Regions from separate parts of the Homo sapiens genome. Here regions 1, 2 and 4 are each linked to region 3. Evidence: fine-mapped expression QTL. A gene starts in region 3. Each other region holds a variant in brackets. All regions are shown on one strand. Distances are from middle to middle.

Region 1 (5,142 bases), 120 kb after region 3:
GCTCAGCGGGGGTTGGAGGTGGCAGAGCCCTCCTCAGCCTGGGGGAGCTCAGCCCTGTCCTCAGTGAGAAAGACCCCCAGCCCCTGGCAGCGGACGGCAGTGACCACACAAGGGCTTGAGACCTGGGACTGGGACCTGGGCCGAGTGTGGGGTCCAGACCCAGGTGGTGGAGAAAGGGGTAGGCTCTGCAAGTGTGTGTGTGTGCATGTAGTGTGCTTTGTATGAGTGTGGGGTGTGTGTGTGTAGTACTAAACACATCATGTGACGTGTATATGTGTGTGGTGTGTGTCTACATGTGGTGTGGTGTGTGGGGTATGTATATATGTGGTGTGTACATGTGTGGTGTGTACAGGTGGGATGTGTATATATATGTGGTGTGCACATGTGTGGTGTGTGGGGTGTGTATTTGTGGTGTGTATGTGTGTGGTGTGTAGGTGTGTGGTGTGTGGGGTGTGTATATATATGTGTAGTGTGTACATGTGTGGTGTGTGTGTTGGGTGGCACGTGTGCACATGAGACACGGGGTCCAGCCCGGTGGCCCCAGCTCCTGGCCAGGCAATCCCAGGGGACAAAGGCTCCTGGACAAAATGGCTTTGGCCCCTTCCGCCCGCCGTGGCCTTGGAGGGCAGAGGAAAGTTCTCATGGCCCAGCGAGTGCTCCTGATATGTGGGTGTGCACAGGAGAAGAGAAAGAAAATATCAAGAAGCCGTGATTATCTCCTCTGAGGGAGTCACAGACACGCAGCCTTGAAACGCCAGCCCTGAGCTTAGGGCAGGGCTCTCCCAGGGCCGGGGATTAACTCTTTGCTTCCCTCTCCCTCCGGGGCTGGGGGCTGCCTATGGTGGCTCAGCTGAGCCCCTGGCCCACCAGCCCCTTGAGACCATCCCAGACCCTGCCAGGAGCCAGGCGGTGATCAGCCTCTGGGCACAGGCCCAGCCCTCCATCTCCCCTACAGCCGGCCTGGAGCACAGATTCCAGGGCCTGGCTCCCAAGGGGACATCCCATGGGGTCCCAGAGCCTCAGGAGCCTCAGGGCCCGGTCACTCAGCTGCACTGCCCTCCACACATGATCTGGGGCAGCCCCAGCACGCCTCAGGTCCTCAGTCTGACCTGGATCCCGGGAGCCCCCTGAAGACAGACGAACCGACCTGGGTCCTGGTCACTGCTCCAAGCTCATGCCCTCTCCATAAACTCGGTGTGGGGCCACCAGACGTAGCAAGTAAAAATTCAGGACACACAATTAATTCAAATTTCAGTGAAACAATGAAAACTTACAGTGTGAATGCATCCTAAATATTTCATGGGACATATTTATCCTAAGAAATGGTCCGTGTTCTTCCGAGACGCACATCTGACCCTGGGCCCCGTGTTATTCTGACCAGGGCATCCCAGGGTCAGCCGACCACCGCAGAGCGGGCACCCCCACGGCTCCGCCGCACAGCCCCAAGTTTTATTTCTATTTTATTTATTTTTTGCGGAATAAACAGTCTCAAGTGCACAAGCCCAGGGCTCTGGCAAATGCGTCCAGTGCGTAACTACCTCATCCTCAGGCCACGGAACATTCTACCGGGGGGGCCCTGTCACCCCACGTGGTTTGGCCTGCTCTGGGGAGGCCCGAGACCCTGTGTGTCTGCTTCTTTCTTGTACAGTCATCATGATTTTTTATCCATTTCTGTGTGGATGAAGGAGACTTGGGGACTTGGAGTGGTTCCTGTTTGAAGACCTTCTCCTTCTCCTTCTCCTTCTCTTCTTCTTCTTTTTTTTTTTATATGGAGTTTCACTCTTGTTACCCAGACTGGAGTGCAATGGCGCAATCCCGGCTCACCGCAACCTCTGTCTCCCGGTTTCAAGCGATTCTCCTGCCCCAGCCTCCCGAGTAGCTGGGATTACAGGTGCCCACTACCACGCCTGGCTAATTTTGTATTTTTAGTAGAGACGGGGTTTCTCCATGTTGGTCAGGCTGTCAGGCTGGTCTCGAACTCCCGACCTCAGGTGATCTGCCTGCCTCAGACTCCCAAAGTGCTGGGATTACAGGCGTGAGCCACCATGCCCAGCCTTCTTTTTTTTTTTTTGAGACAGGGCCTCGCTCTGTCACCCAGGCTGGAGTGCCTTGGACCATCACAGCTCACTGCAGCCTCGAACTCCTGGGTCAGATGATCCTCCCGCCTCAGAGTCTCGCATAGTTGGGACCACAGGTGCATCCACCACACACAACTAGTTTATTTTTTAATTTTTTGTAGAGACAAGGTCTCACCATGTTTCCCAGGCTGGTCTCAAACTCCTGGGCTCAATCAATCCTCCTGCCTCAGGCTCCCAAAGTGTTGGGATTACAGGCGTGAGCCACCCACCGCACCCGTCCCAGAATGTTCTTATTGAAGTCTTTCTGGGGA[C/T]GGATGATTTCATTCCTCTTTGTAAATGCTTAGGAGTGGAATTGCCAGGTCACACGGTGGACACAGGTTTCATTTGTAAGACTCTGTCCATCTCCGAGGGAACTCTATTTCCAGCACCTCCTTTGACAGGTGGGGAAACTGAGTCCAGGAGCGGTCAGCTTTGCTCTAGGCCTCGGCTGCTTCTCTGGGGTAGCCATTGACATCGCCCGGCCTGCAACTCAGGGGTCGGTGGGACCAGCACATAACCTGAGGGAAGTGCTGACTCCCGGGACACTGGACCTATGGGGTGGGGGCTGCAGGGCAGGGTCAGGAGCAGAGTGGGACAGGGTGCAGGGCAGGACAGGGTGCAGAGAGGGATGGGGTACAGGGCAGGACGGGGTGCAGGGCAGGACGGGGTGCAGGGAGAGCTGGGGTGCAGGGAGGGATAGGGTGCAGGGCGGGCCGGGGTGCAGGGTGGGCTGGGGTGCAGGGTGGGGCGGGGTGCAGGGCGGGCTGGGGTGCAGGGAGGGATGGGGTGCAGGGCGGGCCGGGGTGCAGAGCGGGGCACGGTGGGGTGCAGGGTGGGATAGGGCAAGATGAGGTGTGGGGCAGGACGGGCTGCTGGGCAGGGTTGGGCCCAGCCTCAGGGTGTGGCCAGTGTAGACTGAGGTCTCCACATGCGATGCAGGAGGAGCAGGCCACCCTCTTTGGGAACTTCAGCAGGGAGAGTCCACCAAGGGTTAACAGTGGGCTGCCTTTGGCCAGAGACAGCTGCAGGGACACCCCCGCCACCCGCCTCCACCGGGCCCCACAAGGAATGGAATGGAGGGAGTGGAGCCGCCTGAAGGCCACCCGTTATCACCGCCAGCTCCGTGCCAAGCACGTCTGCCAGACCCACAGAGATCCTTTCTGTTTCTGGTGGAGGGAGGGAGGGTGGCCGGTGTGTTTGGTGTGGAGGGGCTGCTATTGGGGTCTGAGGCACCCAGGGAGTGTCTGGACCCACAGCAGGGCCCCTGCCCAGGTGGTCATCCTGACCCCTGCTGATGGGGGAAGGACCAGGACACAGTCCCCGGCTGGTGCTGGCTGGACTGCTGAGGCCTTCTCGGGGTTGGCGGTGCAGCAGGAGGCCCCGGGATGGTGGGAAGGATGCCCGGGTGGGGCTCCTCTGCTTTCAGGCCCTTCCACCCCTACTCTGCAAATCTCCGGCAGGAGGTCCCCAGGATGGGTGGGAGCCAGGCTGTGCGGCCTCCAGTGGGTGAGGTGGGTCCCTGTCCTCCTGCTCACAGGCTGGGTTTCATTCAAAGCACTGGGGAGCCACAGGGAGCTCGGGACGGGGGCAGGTGTGTGGGGTGTGCCTGTCGGGAAGCCTGGGGTCCACCTGCGGGTGGTCCCTCGGCCCTCAGGGGCTGGGGTTTGCTCTGAGTCCCTCCCGTCACCTCACAGAATCCCCTGAGGGGTCTCAGGACCTCCAGGGCTCGTAGCCAGGATGGCCAGGCGACACTGACACCTGGTCCCTCGGCTGCCGCCCCTCTGACCAGTTCCACCCGGCAGCCCGAGCCCAAGACAGCACAAGACAGAGAGACAGAGACAGCGGGGAAGCAGGGAGACAGAGACAGAGAGACACACACAGAGAGACAGAGACAGCAGGGAGGCTCTGGGCTATTCTAGGGCATCGCCCAGTCCCTCACTTGGTTTCCCTAACTTTTTTCTGGATTATAAACCCACACCTGCTGATCAGGAAGACTTTCATCATCCACACGGGTTTAAAGGGGCTTCCAGGGACCGGAGGGTCGGGCTGCGCACAGGTGTGAGGACGGCCACCCTCTGCCCACTGCCTGGCCCACAGCCTTCTGTGGCTCCTTGAGGCCTAGGGGGAAACAGAGGGGGGTCTGGGCCCCCACCCAGTTGTCACCCCAGCTCCCAGGCTCCAGCCGATGGGGCCAGCAGGAAGACGGGCCCTGGGCTCCTCCACCTGCAGAGGCAGCAGAGGGTGGCCGTCCCCACACCTGTGCGCAGCCCGACCCTCCGGTCCCTGGAAGCCCCTTTAAACCCGTGTGGATGATGAAAGTCTTCCTGATCAGCAGGTGTGGGTTTATAATCCAGAAAAAAGTTAGGGAAACCAAGTGAGGGACTGGGCGATGCCCTAGAATAGCCCAGAGCCTCCCTGCTGTCTCTGTCTCTCTGTGTGTGTCTCTCTGTCTCTGTCTCCCTGCTTCCCCGCTGTCTCTGTCTCTCTGTATGTGTCTCTCTGTGTGTGTCTGTCTGTCTCCCTGCTCTTTCTCTCTGTATGTGTCTCTCTGTCTCTGCCTCTCTGTCTCCCCACTGTCTCTGTGTCTCTGTCTCTATCTCCCTACTCTCTGTCTCCCCACTGTCTCTGTCTCTTTGTTTGTCTCTTTGTCTCTGTGTCTTTGTCTCTCGGTCTCTGTCTCCCCACTGTGTCTCTCTATCTCTGTCCGTGTCTCTCTCTCTTTGTCTCTCTGTGTCTGTCTCTCTCTCTGTCTCCCCACTGTCTCTGTCTCTTGGTCTCTGTTTCCCCACTGTCTCTGTCTCTGTCCCTCTATGTCTGTGTCTCTCTCTGTGTCTGCTGATCTCTCTCTCTCTGTCTCTGTCTGTGTCTCTCTCTGTGTCTGCCTCTCTCTCTCTCTCTGACTCTGTCTGTGTCTCTCTCTGTGTCTGTTGGTCTCTCTGTCTCTGTCTCTCTGGCCCTCTGCCTGTCTCCTCCTTCCCTCTTGCAGAACCGAGGTCAGGAGCCCAAGGTCAGGGTTTGCATTATG
Region 2 (5,142 bases), 98 kb after region 3:
AGTGTGATTGCCAGCTGGCCATTGTTCTATAATAACAGGGTCACCTGCATGAGCTCAGGCACAGGCCAGTATCCCCAGCCCTACCTGGGAGCCTCTCGGCAGCCTGGGGGACCTCGTCCTGTGCCACACAGGCAAGCGGACACACCCCCAGGCAGCAGAAGTCACCTGCGGCCCAGTGCCAGCCCTTGCTTTCTTGCTTTTCATGCCATTCACATTAGGGTAAGAATGGCTTTGAGACAAAATGTGACAGCATCACTCACGCCAGCTTAGATCCTCCGGGTTCCCTGTCCTCCCAGGATAACGTCCGAGGCCCCGGCCTCTTCTTGCCACTGCCCCTTGACCTCTGTCCTCTGCCCCTAGGCCCGTGCAGTTCCCTGACTCGCCCTGCCCTGGTGCCCTCTCTCCAGGCAGGACTCCCTCCAGCCCCTTGCTGGCCCTGCCCTGCCTCTCCCCAGGGAGGCCCTGAGGCCCCCCCCCCCCATGTGATCTGTCAGCAGCGCCCTGTGTGGTCATCTGAGCTGCCTTTCCTGCCACCACCACTGTTCCCACTCCAGGAGGGCGGCCTGGCTGTGAAAGCCCCAGGGAGGGGTCCTGGGTGGACCGTCTGGGGAGCTGTGGTGTCAGCCCAAACCTGCACCCTCGAGGCTGAGCCCACCACGGGGAATGTGGTCACCAAGGGCAAGCACGCTTGGCCGCAGGCCTGGAGACGCCGGAGCCAGGCCACGGTGGGCTGCTGCAGGCTTTGGTCCACGTCGGCCAGCGTCAGCTGCTGTCTGGGGATCTTAGGCTAGGGACGGCCCCTGCACCTGCCATCACCTGGGCTGGGACCCCCACCTAGGGCTCCCCCTCCCCACTTGGACGCCTGCGGGCCCATGCCTATCCCACTCCGGTGAGGCCTCAGCCTGGTGGAGGGGGCGCAGGCTTGGGGGGGAGGGTGGCAGAGCTTCCCACAGGGCTGAACCTATGCCCACAAAGCCATGACTTGCCCCTGCCTGAGGCTTTCTGTTCCCCAGGAAATCAGAGACCCCCTCTCCTGAAACCGCCAGGCGGCCCTCACAAGTCCCTTCCCCTCCAGGACCTGCCTGGCGCCACCTCCTTCCAGCCGCCGGGTCCTTCGAGAGGCCCCCTCTCGGGGCTCTGGCCGGACTTGGGACAGGCTGTGCCTGAGTTTCCTCACCTGTGCAAGGGAGGATGCTGGATTGTGGGGAGAGGGGAAACGGACCCCGCCCCCAGGTGCCGCGCGCCCCGCCCCTCCCACCGGCCGAGGGGCCCATTGGCTGCGGGGCGCCGGGGCGGGGCGCGCGGAAAAGAGCCTCGGGCCAGGAGCGCAGGAACCAGACCGTGTCCCGCGGGGCTGTCACCTCCGCCTCTGCTCCCCGACCCGGCCATGCGCGGCCTCGGGCTCTGGCTGCTGGGCGCGATGATGCTGCCTGGTGAGTGGTTCCAGGGAACCGTCCCGGGCGCAGCGCGGGGCAGGGTGGCTCTCCCCGCAGGACGCGACGCGGACCCCGAGCCCCTGGCCTGCTCGCACCCCGCACCCTGGCCCGGCTTCGGGCTGGTCCCTGGGAGCGGGCCATCAGGTGCACAGTGGTCTCTGGGTGGAGAGCCCCGGGCCGGGGAGGCCGGGGAGGTCGGAGGGAACCTTCAAAGGTGAACTGTGAGAGGGAAGTCCCGCCTCTGAGCTTGTTAGTGGGGTCGGGGCCGGGCCAAGCAGGACGCTTCACCTGCTGCGCGAGGCGCCCTGGGTTCCTGGGATTCACCTGTGGGGCTACCCACCCCCACTATTTAGCCGAGGAGGGAAGGGAGGGCAGACAAGCTGAGGCCTGGAGTGCAGGGGTGTGGGCTGAGGGGACCCGTCTCCTGCCTGGGGGAGGACATGGGGCTGCTGACCCTGGATCCCACCCCTGCTCCTGGAGTGACTTGGGCTGGGGTGTGCTGAGGAGCTTCAGGCTGGAGGCCGGGTTGCTTCCCGCCAGTTTCCTGGGCAGATAGGGGCTGGCTGCTCCCCTGCTGCCTCTCCAGGTTGGAGATGTGGTCATGGAGACACGTCCACTATTGTGTTTTAATGGGAGCAAAGGGTCCTGGGGTTGGTGGTCTCCGAAACCCTGCCCATTGCATGCTGGGACCCTGCCCTCTGCTCTCGGATACCAGGGAGTTTCCAGTTCTTGGGAGGTGAACAGCCTCCGGGAGGCACTTCCTGCTCCCCAGTTAGATGCGATCAGATGATCAGAAGAATGGAGGAGGAGAATGGAAACGGGCAGGTCGGCGGCCCGAGTCCTCCTCCCTGGGGGGAAGGTTCATCCTTGCCCTCGGGCCCCTCCAGAGATCTGAGACAGCCTGGAGACCTGTGGAGTCACTGGCACCCGCTGGCACCCACAGCGTCTCTGAGCACTGTGTGTGGGTGCTGCAGGACACAGGCCCACCGGCCATGCCTGGGGGCGCTCCTGGGGTCTTTTAGGCACAGAACCCTCACTTGAGTCTTTGTCCCAGAGCTATCTGGTGAGTTCCCCAGGGGAGGGTCAAGCCCAGCAAGAGACAGAATCTGAGGGCCCAGGAGGCCTCTGGGAAGGAAACCTGCCCCCCGGCCCCTCATGCCTGCTGACCCTCCCTCCTGCAGCGATTGCCCCCAGCCGGCCCTGGGCCCTCATGGAGCAGTATGAGGTCGTGTTGCCGTGGCGTCTGCCAGGCCCCCGAGTCCGCCGAGCTCTGCCCTCCCACTTGGTGAGTCTAAGCTGGCCTGGGGAGGGTCCCTGGCTGGCCCCTGAGCCTATTTTTGTGAAAGGAGCTTTAGCTTACAGAAAGTGGTGAGAGGCCAGTGGGTGTCTGGGGCTGCCCTGTACAGCTCTAGCCCCCTGGGGCCCATCTCCGTTCCTCCCTCCAGCACTGCCTGAGGGCTCCCAGCCTCCTCGTTCCTTCAGGAGCTCTATGGACCCCTGGAAGGGAGCAGGGGCAGGTTGTGCTGGCCCC[G/A]GGCCCCTCCCCAGTTTCACTTGGCGAGGCTGATAAGCCAAATTCCTCTTTGAGAAGTGACGCTGGCTCACCGCAGAGTTGACACACCTTCCTGTGTTGGGGGGGGGGCCTGGCGGGGGTTTCCCAGGGCTAGAAACTGAGAATGCCCCCCTCCCCGACTGGGGCTGCCCGAGGGTGATTCCTGAAGCCTGAGTGGGTGGGTGTGCACACATGTGCACGGCATATGCATGTGTGCACCTGTTTCCAGGGAGGGCAGTTCCGGCCCCAGCCCTGTCCTTACCTCAGCATCCGGGGAACCTACTACCGACCTGCCCGCTGCCCTGGGCTCATCCAGCCGGTGGCACAGCTAAGGCTGTCCCAGAGCTCTGCAGGCCGAGCCCCAGCCTGCACATGGGGGCTGGAGATGCAGTGGTCCAGCAGGAGGCTCTGCAGGCACCACCAGGTCCGGCAGCTGCTGGAAGGGATGGGTCCTGGAGGCAGGCAGCTGTCGCTGGAGGGGCCTGTGCGTGCTATCCCCGCCACCCACCTCCTTTGCTGCCTGGCTGAGGCTATGCCTCCCCCACCCTATGCTTTCTCGGGGAAGGGGCATTGTCGTTACCCATGCGTGGTCAGATGGGGAAACTGAGGCCTGGGAGGACCGAGGAGCACCGTGTCCTTCCTGTCTACCCAAGTGCTGGGCTCCGCCGGTCGCCTTCAGCACAGCCCCGTTCCCTACCCTCCACCCTCCACCCCCCGCCCCCCACCCTCTGCCCTCCGCCCCCCGCCTCCACCCTCCACCCTCCACTCTCCACCCTCCACCTTCCACCCCCCACCCCCTGCCCCCTACCCTCCACCCTCCACCCTCTACCCTGCCTGAGGCTGTGGACCCTCCAGGATGGAGCCTTGACCTGGGGCTGGAGGCCGGCACCCCTTCCCCCCCAGCTGAGCTTCTCTGGCCCCCAGGATTGAGGTGGGCACAGCCCGGGCAGGCTGCTCACCTGGGACCCTTCCCTCCTCGCTCAGGGCCTGCACCCAGAGAGGGTGAGCTACGTCCTTGGGGCCACAGGGCACAACTTCACCCTCCACCTGCGGAAGAACAGGTGAGTGGGTCTCGGGTCGGCCCCCCTGCCCGGGCCTGGCTCCAGCACACTGGTGTCCCCGGCGTCCAGCCTCTGGGCCAGCCTCTCTGCACCGAGGGGGCCGAGGCAGTCACAGCACTTCTTTTCCAGGGACCTGCTGGGCTCCGGCTACACAGAGACCTATACGGCTGCCAATGGCTCCGAGGTGACGGAGCAGCCTCGCGGGCAGGTATGGGTCGGGCGGAGCAGCTGGGCGGGCAGGTAGGGGCTGGGCGGCCCTCCCCGAGCCTGTGGGGCCATGGGGGCACAGCCTGTGGACCCCTCTCCTGCTTCCCCCGCAGGACCACTGCTTCTACCAGGGCCACGTAGAGGGGTACCCGGACTCAGCCGCCAGCCTCAGCACCTGTGCCGGCCTCAGGTGGGTGTGGCGGACGAACGCCAGGGCTCCCGCAGGTGGAGAGGAAGGCCTAAGCCTGTGGTGGGGGTGGGGAAGGGAGGCAGGGAGGGTGCCTCCTCCTCCCACTCAGGCCTTTGCTGTCTTGCATGGGGGTCTGCTCAGGGGACGCCAAGCCCAAGAGGCTCACCCTCCTGTACCCTGGGGCCTGAAGTCACCTGCGGGGGGCTGCTGGTGGCAGGGTAGGGGGAGCTGTAGGCAACAAACTGGAGCCTCTGGTCCTTCGGGGCAGGACCAGGCCACTCTGAAGCCCACAGCACACCCGGCTCCCACTCCCCTCAGGGGTTTCTTCCAGGTGGGGTCAGACCTGCACCTGATCGAGCCCCTGGATGAAGGTGGCGAGGGCGGACGGCACGCCGTGTACCAGGCTGAGCACCTGCTGCAGACGGCCGGGACCTGCGGGGTCAGCGACGACAGCCTGGGCAGCCTCCTGGGACCCCGGACGGCAGCCGTCTTCAGGCCTCGGCCCGGGGTGAGCACCCTTGTCTCCTGTGTTTGGCTGGCCCTGCCGGTGTCCACTTGCCTGGCCTGTGAGTCCTCCTGGCTCCCCATGTGCTGGGTGCTGCCCATTGTCTGCAGCCTGGAGCAGGCCTGGCCACGCTCCCCCAGCACTGGACAGGGGCTGGACAGTGGCCCCGGGTCCCTGAGGGAGGGTCCAGGCCC
Region 3 (5,136 bases):
TCCAGCCCCTGGTGACCGCTAATCTAGTTTCTGTCTCTGTGGATTTGCCTGTTCTGTACATTTCATAGAAATGGAACCTATTCAATGCACGGCCTTTGTGTCTGGCTTTTTTTACTGAGCATAACATTTCCAAGGCTTGTCCATTTTGTAATGTGTATCAGCGCTTCTTTCTTTTTTACTCCTGAATAGAGTCCATTGTATAGTCTAATACATTCTAATGTATCCATTGTTTGGATATATGACATTTTGTTTATCCATTCATGAGTTGATGGACAATTGGCTTTTTCCCTCTTTTTGGCTATTATGAATAATGTTGCTATGAACGTTCATGTCTAAGTTTTTGTGGACATTTGTCTTCATTTCTCTGAGGTGTACACCTAAGAGTGGAGTTGCTGTTTGACCTTTTGAGGAAACAACAGACTGTTTTCCAAAGTGACTGCACCATTTTCCATTCCCGCTGGCAGTGTACCAGCGTTCCCCGCTCACGTCCCCCACAACCCGCTGTGACTGTTGGGCTTTTTATTGCAGCCAGCACAGTAGGTGTGACGTCGTATCACTGAGGGGTCAGTTTGCATTTCCCTAATGATTCGTGATGCTGAGCTTATCTGACACTGATTATCTTCATTGGAGGAATGTCTGTTCAGTCCTCTCACTATCTTGGTAGTGTCCTTTCAGACATAAAAGTTTTAAATTTTGGTGAAATCCAATTTACATATGTTCTCCCTTTGTTGCTTGTGCTTTTGTGGCTACATTACTTGATGGAGGACGGGAGCTGCCCGGCCTCCTGGGTCGTTAGAAAGGAAACCTCTTGGCGGACACGGTGGTCCACTCCTGTAATTCCAGCACTTTGCGAGGCCGAGACCGGTGGATCACTTGAGGTCAGGAGTTCGAGAACAGCCTGGCCAACATGGCAAAACTCCCGACTCTACTAAAAAACTACAAATATTAGCCGGGCATGGTGGTAAGCACCCGTAGTTCCAGCTACTCAGGAGGCTGAGGCAGGAGAATCGCTTGAACCCGGGAGGCGCAAGCTATGATGAGCCGGGATGACACCACTGCACTCCAGCCTGGGTGACAGCGAGACAAGAAAGAAAGGAAAGAAGAGAAGGTGAAGGAGAAGGAAGGAAGGAAATAAACCTCTTTTCTGTCTGAGCCATTTCATTTTGGGCCTGTCTGTCCCAGAGGTTTAACTACACTAGTATAGAGCATCGTTTACTAAAGGTTTGTTGAGGTTTGTTGTTGATTTGTTTCTACTTACACGAGATGTCTTCATTTTTACCCTCGGTCTTGAAATAAAATTTTGGTGCATGTTCATTTTTGGTTTGAATTGAATTATTTTCTTGAACATAGTGAGGCAGGAGAACAGGGTCTGGAGGCCAATTCATGCTGACTCCCTAGAACTAAATCAAATGGAAACACTTCCGCTATGACAAGAAGTGTCCTCTCCATTTACACAGGGCGTACACCAAGTAACCAATGGAAACCTCTAGAGGGTATTTAACCCCCCCAAAAAATCTGTAACGGGGCTCTTGAGCCGCTATGCTCAGCCGCTCCCACAGTGTGGAGTTATTTTCGTTGTCTTTTCTTGTTTCTTTTTTGAGACGAAGTCTGGCTCTATCGCCCAGGCTGGAGGGCAGTGGTGCGATCTCGGCTCACTGCAACCTCCGCCTCCCGGATTCAAGCAATTCTCCTGCGTCAGCCTCCCGAGTAGCTAAGACCACAGGCGTGCACCACCACGCCCGGCTAATTTTTGTGTTTTTAGTAGAGAGGGGGGTTTCACCATGTTGCCCAGGCTGGTCTCAAACTCCTGACGTCAGGTGATCTGCCCGCCTTGGCCTCCCAAAGTGCTGGGATTACAGGCCTGAGCCACCGCGCCCGGCCACACTTTTGTTTTCCATAAATCTCGCTTTTGTTGCTTCCTTCTTTCCGTGCTTTGTTTGTGCGTTTTGTCCAGTTCTTTGTTCAAGACGTCAAGAACCTGGACACCCTCCACCGGTCACAATAGCAGTTTCGCTTTCCATTCCATTTTATCCAGGGTGGTTTTATCTCCACCCTGGCGTTTGCAGAATCCGGGCAAGTACACAAATGGATGCTCCACAATACTTGTCTAGATATTTAAAAGGTATAAATAAAATAACTTAAATGAATGAAATTTTTATTATTTAAATCTGTTGAAGTCTTGTGTGCATGAAAATAAAACTCCTCCTAATGTGGCGTTCAGTGCCCACGCCGCTGCCACCGTGCCTGGCCCTGCGCCTGGGCGCGCTGTGTCCGCTGCTACAGACGCCGGCGGGCAGGCGGGCAGGCGGGCAGGCGGGCAGGCGGGCAGGCGGGCAGGCGGGCAGGCGGGCGGGGGGAGGCGGCGCAGAGCCCGGCAGGCGCCGCCGTTGCCTCCGCCTCCGCGCGGTCTCCCCGGGGCCAGCTGGGACCCCGAGGGCTGGGGCGGGGGCGGGGGCGCGGGCGACTGCGGCGGGGCCTGGAGGGCGCTGGTCCCAGCCCAGGGCGGGGTCCCGGGGACGCCCCTCGGCCTTAGATCCGCGAGCGGCAGCTCGGGCCTGGGGGCGGGGCCTGGCGGAGAGCGACCCGCTCACTCTGCCCGGGCTGATCTCGCGAGGGCCGCCTGGTCTCGCGGCGCTGGCCTGTGGGCGGAGCGAGCCCTGAAAGGCTATAGGCGAGGGGGCGGCTCCGCGGGGCCGGGCGAGGAGTCCAGAGAGCCATGGCCGCCCTGCGTGTCCTGCTGTCCTGCGTCCGCGGCCCGCTGAGGCCCCCGGTTCGCTGTCCCGCCTGGCGTCCCTTCGCCTCGGGTGAGTGCGCGGTGAGAGCTGGCGGCCCGAATCTCCTCCTGACTCCGACCTGCACGCCCAGACCAGATCCCAGACCGCACCCCCCTCCCACCTGACCCCGCATCCCCCACCTGACCCCAACCCACACCCCTCTTCCGCCTGACCCCGCACCCTCACCTGACCCCTACCCGCACCCCACTCCGCCTGACCCCGCACCCCCCCGCCTGACCCCGCACCCCCCCACCTGACCCCGCACCCTCCGGCCTGACCCCTACCCGCACCCCACTCCGCCTGACCCCGCACCCCCCCACCTGACCCCGCACCCCCCGGCCTGACCCCGCACCCCTCTTCCGTCCGATCCCGCATCCCCAGGGCCTGACTCCGCACTCTCCTGCCTGACCCCGCACCTACCACCTGACCCCGACCCGCAGCCCCTGCCTGGCTCAGGCCTGCAACACCCCCCTCGCCTAGTGCTGCACCCCCCACCTGACCCGCACCCACAGCCTGACCCAGGCTTAACACCCCCCCACCACCCGCCACCCCGCACCGACACCACCCACCTGACCCTGGCCCGCACCCCCACCCCCTGCCTGGCTCTGCAGGAGGCCACTCTCACCAGGCCACGTCCTGCGGGAGGCCCGGCGGCTGGCTGGTACTGCCCCAGTGCCAAGACCTCTGGCCAACTGGGCGCAGGGTGGGGGTTGTAAAAATCCGGGGTGTTCCCTCGGCTCTAAGAGCAGGCGTAGCTCCTGTGCAGCCGGCCAGCCCGAGAACAGGAGATGCAGGTGCATTTTGTCCTGGGTGCCTCCTGACCAGGGCCACCCCTCAGAGGGTCCTAAGGGAAAAGCTGACACCTCCTCCCCAGCCACAGGGGGCTGCCCTCTTCCTCCCTCGTGGCTCACCCGGGGCCCCACTCATGAGCGGCCATCACCGGCTCTAGTATCTGAGGAATCTTGGGCCATGCCTTGGGCTGGGGAAGAACTCTTGCTTCCTCTTCCTCCCTCACCCTGTGTAGCAGTGGACCACTGAGTTGTGTTGGTTTCATCTCCATGCTCTCCTTGGCCTTCGGCTTCTCCACCCTGACAGCAGCCCTTTCCTGGATCTTGCATGGCGGGCACTGCTGCCAGACACTTCACCTGTGATCTTCCAGTTACCCCTAGAAACCCACAGGATACGGCGGGGCACAGTGGCTAATGCCTATAATCCCAGCACTTTGGGAGGCTGAGGCAGGTGGATCACCTGAGGTCATCAAGACCACCTTGGCCAACATGGTGAAACCCCATGTCTACTAAAAATACAAAAATTAGCCAGGTGTGGTGGTGTGTGACCGTAGTCCCAGCTACTCGGGAGGCTGAGGCAGGAGAATCACCTGAACCCTGTAGGCAGAGGTCGCAGTGAGCCAAGATTGCGCCACTGCACTCCAGCCTGGGCAATAGAGTGAGACTCGGTCTCCAAAAAAAAGAAACCCATAGCACAGGGACTATGATCCCTGCTCTGCCACTAACGGAGGCAAGCATCCAACACACAGGCTACCTTTGTCTTTTCAGGTTCACCTTCTCACCCCTGGAACGCCATTGTCCTTTGTCTCCTTCCCACCTTGCTGTCCACCCAGCAGGCGCAGGTCCTGTGCAGCAGGCCAACCGAGAAGCGCCTGCGTCTCCCATTTTCGGGCTGGCCTGCTGCTCCGGACCTGTGCCTGATCTTAATGCTGCAGGAACACCCAGGATTTTCACATCCCCCACCCTGCGTCCAGTTGGCCAGAGGTCTTGGCACTGGGGCGGTACCAAGTGCAAGGAGCTGCCTTACACCCCCTCACCTGTTGGCATTTGTTGAAAGAAGGTGTTTCCTGGTGCCTTGTCTCAGCAGAGTCCAGGGCTGTCTCCAGAGTGGTGTCCTGGGAAGAGCTGACCAAGGCATATTAGGAGAAGGAAAGCGGCTGTGGGCTGTGTTCTGTGCTGGGGATTTTTCTTTTTTTCTTTTCTTTTTTTTTGAGACGGAGTCTCACTCTGTCACCCAGGCTGGAGTGCAGTGGCATGATCTCAGCTCACTGCAAGCTCCACCTCCTGGGTTCATGCCACTCTCCTGCCTCAGCCTCCCCAGTAGCTGGGACTACAGGCGCCCGCCACAACACCCGACTAATTTTTTGTATTTTAGGTAGAGACGGCGTTTCACCGTGTTAGCCAGGATGGTCTCGATCTCCTGACCTTGTGATTCGACCGCTTCGGCCTCCCAAATTGCTGGGATTACAGGCGTGAGCCACCGCGCCCGGCCCGGGGATTTTCTTTAGGACATGTTCAAACACATGTGAAAGCAGAGAGAATGGTACCAAGGCTACCATCTATCCTTGTGGCTG
Region 4 (5,142 bases), 23 kb before region 3:
GGGCGCTGCGCCTTCTCCTTGGAGAGGCCAGGCAGGAGGGGCTGGCCCATCCCACGCCCGCCTCCCACTCCCAGCTCTGGGCCCCACCAACCAACCTCTTTTCGGTGGTAGCGGTGGCTTCTCCCAATCAGTTCAGTGACCATCGGGATGATCTGCAACAAACACCCACTCATGGAGCCACCCCAGGTCGGACGTCTGTGCACTGACCCGCTCCTTCTGCCACCTCAGAACAGGATTAGGGATTCCAGTGTCTCCACTTTCACATATCCGTTAGGAAAACAGAAACCTCCTATCTGGAATTCTACCCAACATTTCATAGGCAAACTGGGCGTCACCCTTCATCTGGAGGTAGCACACCAAGTATCCGGTGTTGGGAAACTGGAGTTCTGTCCAGGTCACAGATGTCAGACTGAGCTCTGGGGCCGGGGACCACCTATGCCCGTCCCCTCCCATCAAAAACAAGCAGGGCAGACCCGGGGCTTCAGTGACAGCTGTAACTACCTTTTAATGAAGAAACACATCAAGCCAGAAAATTCTACCACATACAACTGGAAACATGAGCTACCTGAGTCTCCAAAAGACTCTGACCACCTACAACCCTGGAATGCGTCTACAGCCTGACCTTGTGCCCTCAGTACAGGGAGACCCACTTGCCCCAGGAGATCGCATCCGTGTGTGGCAGCTGGAAACCAACACCTAGGATCTTTTCCAAAGCTCTGCTTCTTACTAAAGCATAAAACAGTTTATAATGCTCCTCGAACCTACTGAAGCAGAAGCGTCAGAGAGAGCACAGACGAAAAGCCTACCTGCTTGACATTTTCATCCTTTACACAGTTGGTAAAAATGACATTTTTTAGGCCTTCTCCTTCTAAGTGTTGCATAATTTTCTGAAAGACACAAAACATTTCTATGTTACTTTTTTTACTGGAGTCTTGGCTCTGTCACCCAGGCTGGAGTGCAGTAGCACAATCTCGGCTCCCTGCAACCTCCGCCTCCCTGGTTCAAGCGATTCTCATGCCTCAGCCTCCCAAGTAGCAGGGATTACAGGCATGCGCCACCACGCCCAGATAATTTTTGAATTCACTGGCCTTAACATGCAGTGAAACTAGTGCAAAGCAGTATCATATTTCTAAACATCAGTGCTGTTAATCATCTGACCTAAAGTATGACTGATGTTTAAATCAACAAGTCCTTCACTGATTCAGCTGGTTTTATTTAGCTGTCCACGAAGATGACACGGATGGAGAGATCAAACATAAGACACACACCTGAAGCCACACACTCTGGGTAGTAAATGTACTTGGGTGTCCCTGCTCAGGGAGGCAGAAGGCAGGGCCACCCAGGGGCAAGTCTACCTCTCTCCCGATTCTTCAGAAGCACTGGCCTTTCTCTGACCAGGTCAGACACTGCTGTGCCCTATACTAGACGGCCACCCACCAGTCTACAAAAAGTCACATTTTCAAAGGCAGGAGTTGCCACTGATATGACGTAAAAGTACCAACTAGTGAAAACACTTGCGATGATTTAAAAAAAAAAAAAAAACAGGCTGGACGCAGTGACTCACGCCTGTAATACCAGCACTTTGGGAGGCCGAGGCGGGCGGATCATGAGGTCAGGAGATTGAGACCATCCTGGCTAACACAGTGAAACCCCGTCTCTACTAAAGATACAAAAAATTAGCCGGGCATGGTGGCGGGCGCCTGTAGTCCCGGCTGCTCAGGAGGCTGAGGCAGGAGAATGGCGTGAACCCGGGAGGCAGAGCTTGCAGTGAGTCAAGATTGCGCCACTGCACTCCAGCCTGGGCGACAGAGCAAGACTCTGCCTCAAAAAAAAAAAAAGAAAATAAGACACAAGACAAAGAGATAAAAGAAAAGACAGCTGTGCCTGGGGGACCACTACCACCAAGATGCAGAGACCGGTAGTGGCCCCAAATGTCTGGCTGCACTAATATTTATTGGATACAAAGCAAAAGGGGCAGGGTAAGGAGTGTGAGCCATCTCCAATGACAGGTAAGGTCACGTGGGTCATGTGTCCACTGGACAAGGGGCCCTTCCCTGCCTGGCAGCCAAGGCAGAGAGAGAGGGAGAAAGAGAGACAGCTTACGCCATTATTTCTGCTTATCAGAGACTTTCGGTACTTTCACTAATTTTGCTACTGCTATCTAAAAGACAGAGCCAGGTGTACAAGATGGAACATCAAGGCGGACTAGGAGCGTGACCACTGAAGCACAGCATCACAGGGAGACAGTTAAGCCTCCGGATAACTGCGGGCAGGCCTGACTGATGTCAGGTCCTCCACAAGAGGTGGAGGAGTAGAGTCTTCTCTAAACTCCCCTGGGGAAAGGGAGACTCCCTTTCCCGGTCTGCTAAGTAGCGGGTGCTTTTCCTTGACACTGACGCTACCGCTAGACCACAGTCGGCTTGGCAACGGGCGTCTTCCCAGACACTGGCGTTACCGCTAGACCAAGGAGTCCTCTGGTGGCCCTGTCTGGGCATAACAGAAGGCTCACACACTTGTCACGTCTCACTATGTCCCCTCAGCTCCTATCTCTGTATGGCCTGGTTTTTCCTAGGTTATGATTATAGAGCAAGAATTATAATAATATTGGAATGAAGAGTAATTGCTACAAACTAATGATTAGTAATATTCATATACAATCATATCTATGACCTATATCTAGTATAACTATTCTTATTTCATATGTTTTATTACACTGGAAAAGCTCGTGTCCTCGGTCTCTTGCCTCGGCACCTGGGTGGCTTGCTGCCCACAATGCGCACTCACTGACCACTCGGGCTCTGGCAGCACAACCTGGCCACTTCCCACAGGAGACGTGCACTCCCTGGGTGTCCAGGTCACGAACCACACATTAGATGGGGGCACGCCATATGAGAAACGATGCTGGCACGCTTCTGCAAAGCAAAGGGCTGTTTCTAAAGCAGAGCCTGCCTGGGCAAACTGACAAGTGTGCGTCC[G/A]GCAACTCTTCCGTTAGAACAAGCGACCTCGGGAAAACACAGCCACACTGCTGAAGGCGTCTGAGAGAAAGGCCTTTACCTGCTGCTCTGTAAGATCCGCCAAGTCCATCTTGTTGAGGACCAGCAAGTGAGGCTTAAGCCCAAGGGTTTCCTGAAACAGAGGGTTGCGGCCTGAAAGTGGGATGTGGCAAAATTAAGGTAAAAATTCCTCCAAAGCTTTACCAGCCAACCAACTTTTTTTCTTGCCATCAGTGAACGAATCATCACATCCTGCCAATTCATTCCTCAAGTACAGGAGAAAAGCCCCAGTTGGCAGGAACATTTAAACAGTTTCATAGCCCATCTAGAGGATTCCACTGCTGCACCGTACCGTCAGGCTTGAGTGACGCAGATATATGTATTAACAATGAAGTTTCAAAGACACGCAGTCTGGACCCCACATCACAGATTCTGATTAACTGGTCTAGAAAGGGGCCTCGCAATTCATATTTTTAAAAGCCTCCCCAGGTAATTCTAATGTGTAATATGACTTCAGGCAGAGGGGCCTCCCCTGCTCTGTGAAAGGATATCCGGGCATCGTGGACCTCGATGATACAGTCCACCAGCTTCAGGCTGCTCTGCATCTTCTTCAGCCCTGGAAAACAGAAGGACGCCTCAGCGAAGGGGCTCACAACCTTTCTAGAGTGATCGATTCAAGCTGAACCGTCCAGAATGACACGCCACCATAAATAACCTAAAAAGACTATATCTGAGGGAAGCGTACTAAGTAATGGTAACAGATAACATCCGCTGAGCGCCTCCTCCAAGGTCCGCACCCTCGGAGTGGGAGACTGGGAGGCACCCTGCCACAGGGTGGGCCATGTGTCAAAAGCCAGATGCGGTCTTCACCACCTGACTCATGGCTGACTCTGGGTGGAATATTTAACGTGCATGGGTCGCTTTTTTGTTTTCTGAGACGGAGTCTTGCTCTGTCACCCAGGCTGGAGTGCAGTGGCACGATCTCGGCTCACTGCAACCTCCGCCTGCCAGGTTCAAGCAATTCTCCTGCCTCAGCCTCCCGAGTAGCTGGGACTACAGGGACGCGCCACCATGCCGGGCTAATTTTTTGTATTTTTAGTAGAGACACGGTTTCACCATGCTGGCCAGGATAGTCTCGATGTCCTGACCTCGTGATCTGCCCACCTCGGCCTCCCAAAGTACTGGGATTACAAGCGTGAGCCACCGGGCCGGGCCCTTCCACGGGTCTTAATCTGGGCTATAACACAGAGTAACACTGGCTCATTAGGCCCCTGCTACCTCGCGGGGATGATGACGATAGTCCCCTAACCAGGAATACCACACACAACCAAGATAACAAAGCTTCCAGCTTTCTTCCCCTCCAGTGTTATCCGAAGACCGAGGACACAGCCTCAGTCACCCACACGGGCCCTTCTTCCCCCTCGGCCCCCAGTACACGCGGAGCCGACGCAGGAGTGGCCATCACAACACCTAGACGGGCTGGGCTGGCCCCAGAGGTCTTCTTGGGGCCGAATTGTGACAAACAGTAAGAATTACCAAAGACGTTAAGCAGGAGAACGACTCAAGATACCAGTTAAAACTGAACAGGTGCCTTCATACCCACTGTTTCATTTAGTCCCCAAAAGACTCAGAAAAGTCTATCTTGTCAAGAACATGTGGAAACGGAGGCTTCGGGGGATTAAAAGGGCAGAAGGAACTTGCTGGGAACAGAGGACAGGGGCGGCGGGCCAGAGGTAGGAGGTCAAGCAGGCCCTGGGTCCGAGGCTGCGCCGCGGGGGCACTCGCGGGAACGGGCCTCTCCCGCAGCTGCGCAGGGGAAGGGGTCCCGGCGGCTCCGGGAGCGGGTGAGAGCGGGGAAGGAGGGGAGACAAGGGAGGAGGGGCGGGGCCAGCCCAGAACGACCGGGAGAAGCAGGCGACGGCCGAAACCGGGGTGGGAGGGAAGCAGAGGCGCCGCGGCCGTAGGCATGACCTTGCCCCTCCCCGCCGTGCCTCACCCTTGGCCATGTGGCCCGGGAACCAGCGCGCCACGTCGCGACCGCACAGGGGGAAGTTCTCCCGCCAGGCGGCCTGGGCGGCGCTGCACAGCGCGCGCGGGGTCAATCTCATGGCGGCACCGTCCCCGGAAACGCTCCCGCAGCTGACCTCCT

The links.
Region 1: its variant is fine-mapped to the expression of ECHS1 in blood mononuclear cells (TOPMed, PIP 0.95).
Region 2: its variant is fine-mapped to the expression of ECHS1 in whole blood (TOPMed, PIP above 0.99).
Region 4: its variant is fine-mapped to the expression of ECHS1 in whole blood (TOPMed, PIP 0.96).

The regions. Positions count from the first base shown.
Region 1 is chr10:133,250,169-133,255,310 of GRCh38, reverse strand. No RefSeq gene overlaps it. Among named protein-coding and RNA genes, the nearest start is that of MIR202HG, 4.9 kb to the right of the region's middle. The variant C/T (reference allele first, on the strand shown) is at 2,390.
Region 2 is chr10:133,273,063-133,278,204 of GRCh38, reverse strand. ADAM8 (ADAM metallopeptidase domain 8) reads left to right here and starts at 1,337. Exons shown (of 23, transcript NM_001109.5): 1 at 1,337-1,433; 2 at 2,618-2,721; 3 at 3,970-4,046; 4 at 4,176-4,254; 5 at 4,367-4,443; 6 at 4,762-4,951. The coding sequence starts at 1,388. RefSeq lists a silencer at 1,088-1,647 and enhancers at 1,247-1,894, 2,898-3,157, 3,195-3,844. The variant G/A (reference allele first, on the strand shown) is at 2,968.
Region 3 is chr10:133,370,914-133,376,049 of GRCh38, reverse strand. ECHS1 (enoyl-CoA hydratase, short chain 1) reads left to right here and starts at 2,696. Exons shown (of 8, transcript NM_004092.4): 1 at 2,696-2,804. The coding sequence starts at 2,717. MIR3944 (microRNA 3944) reads left to right here and starts at 4,387; the gene lies at 4,387-4,494. LOC124902563 (a long non-coding RNA gene) reads left to right here. Exons shown (of 2, transcript XR_007062395.1): 2 at 844-1,314. RefSeq lists an enhancer at 1,953-2,042 and a silencer at 2,424-2,933.
Region 4 is chr10:133,394,180-133,399,321 of GRCh38, reverse strand. MTG1 (mitochondrial ribosome associated GTPase 1) reads right to left here. Exons shown (of 11, transcript NM_138384.4): 1 at 4,990-5,142; 2 at 3,545-3,609; 3 at 3,055-3,159; 4 at 807-887; 5 at 96-152. The coding sequence starts at 5,101. Among named protein-coding and RNA genes, the nearest start is that of MTG1, 2.6 kb to the right of the region's middle. RefSeq lists an enhancer at 3,485-4,439 and silencers at 4,764-4,963, 5,024-5,142. The variant G/A (reference allele first, on the strand shown) is at 2,976.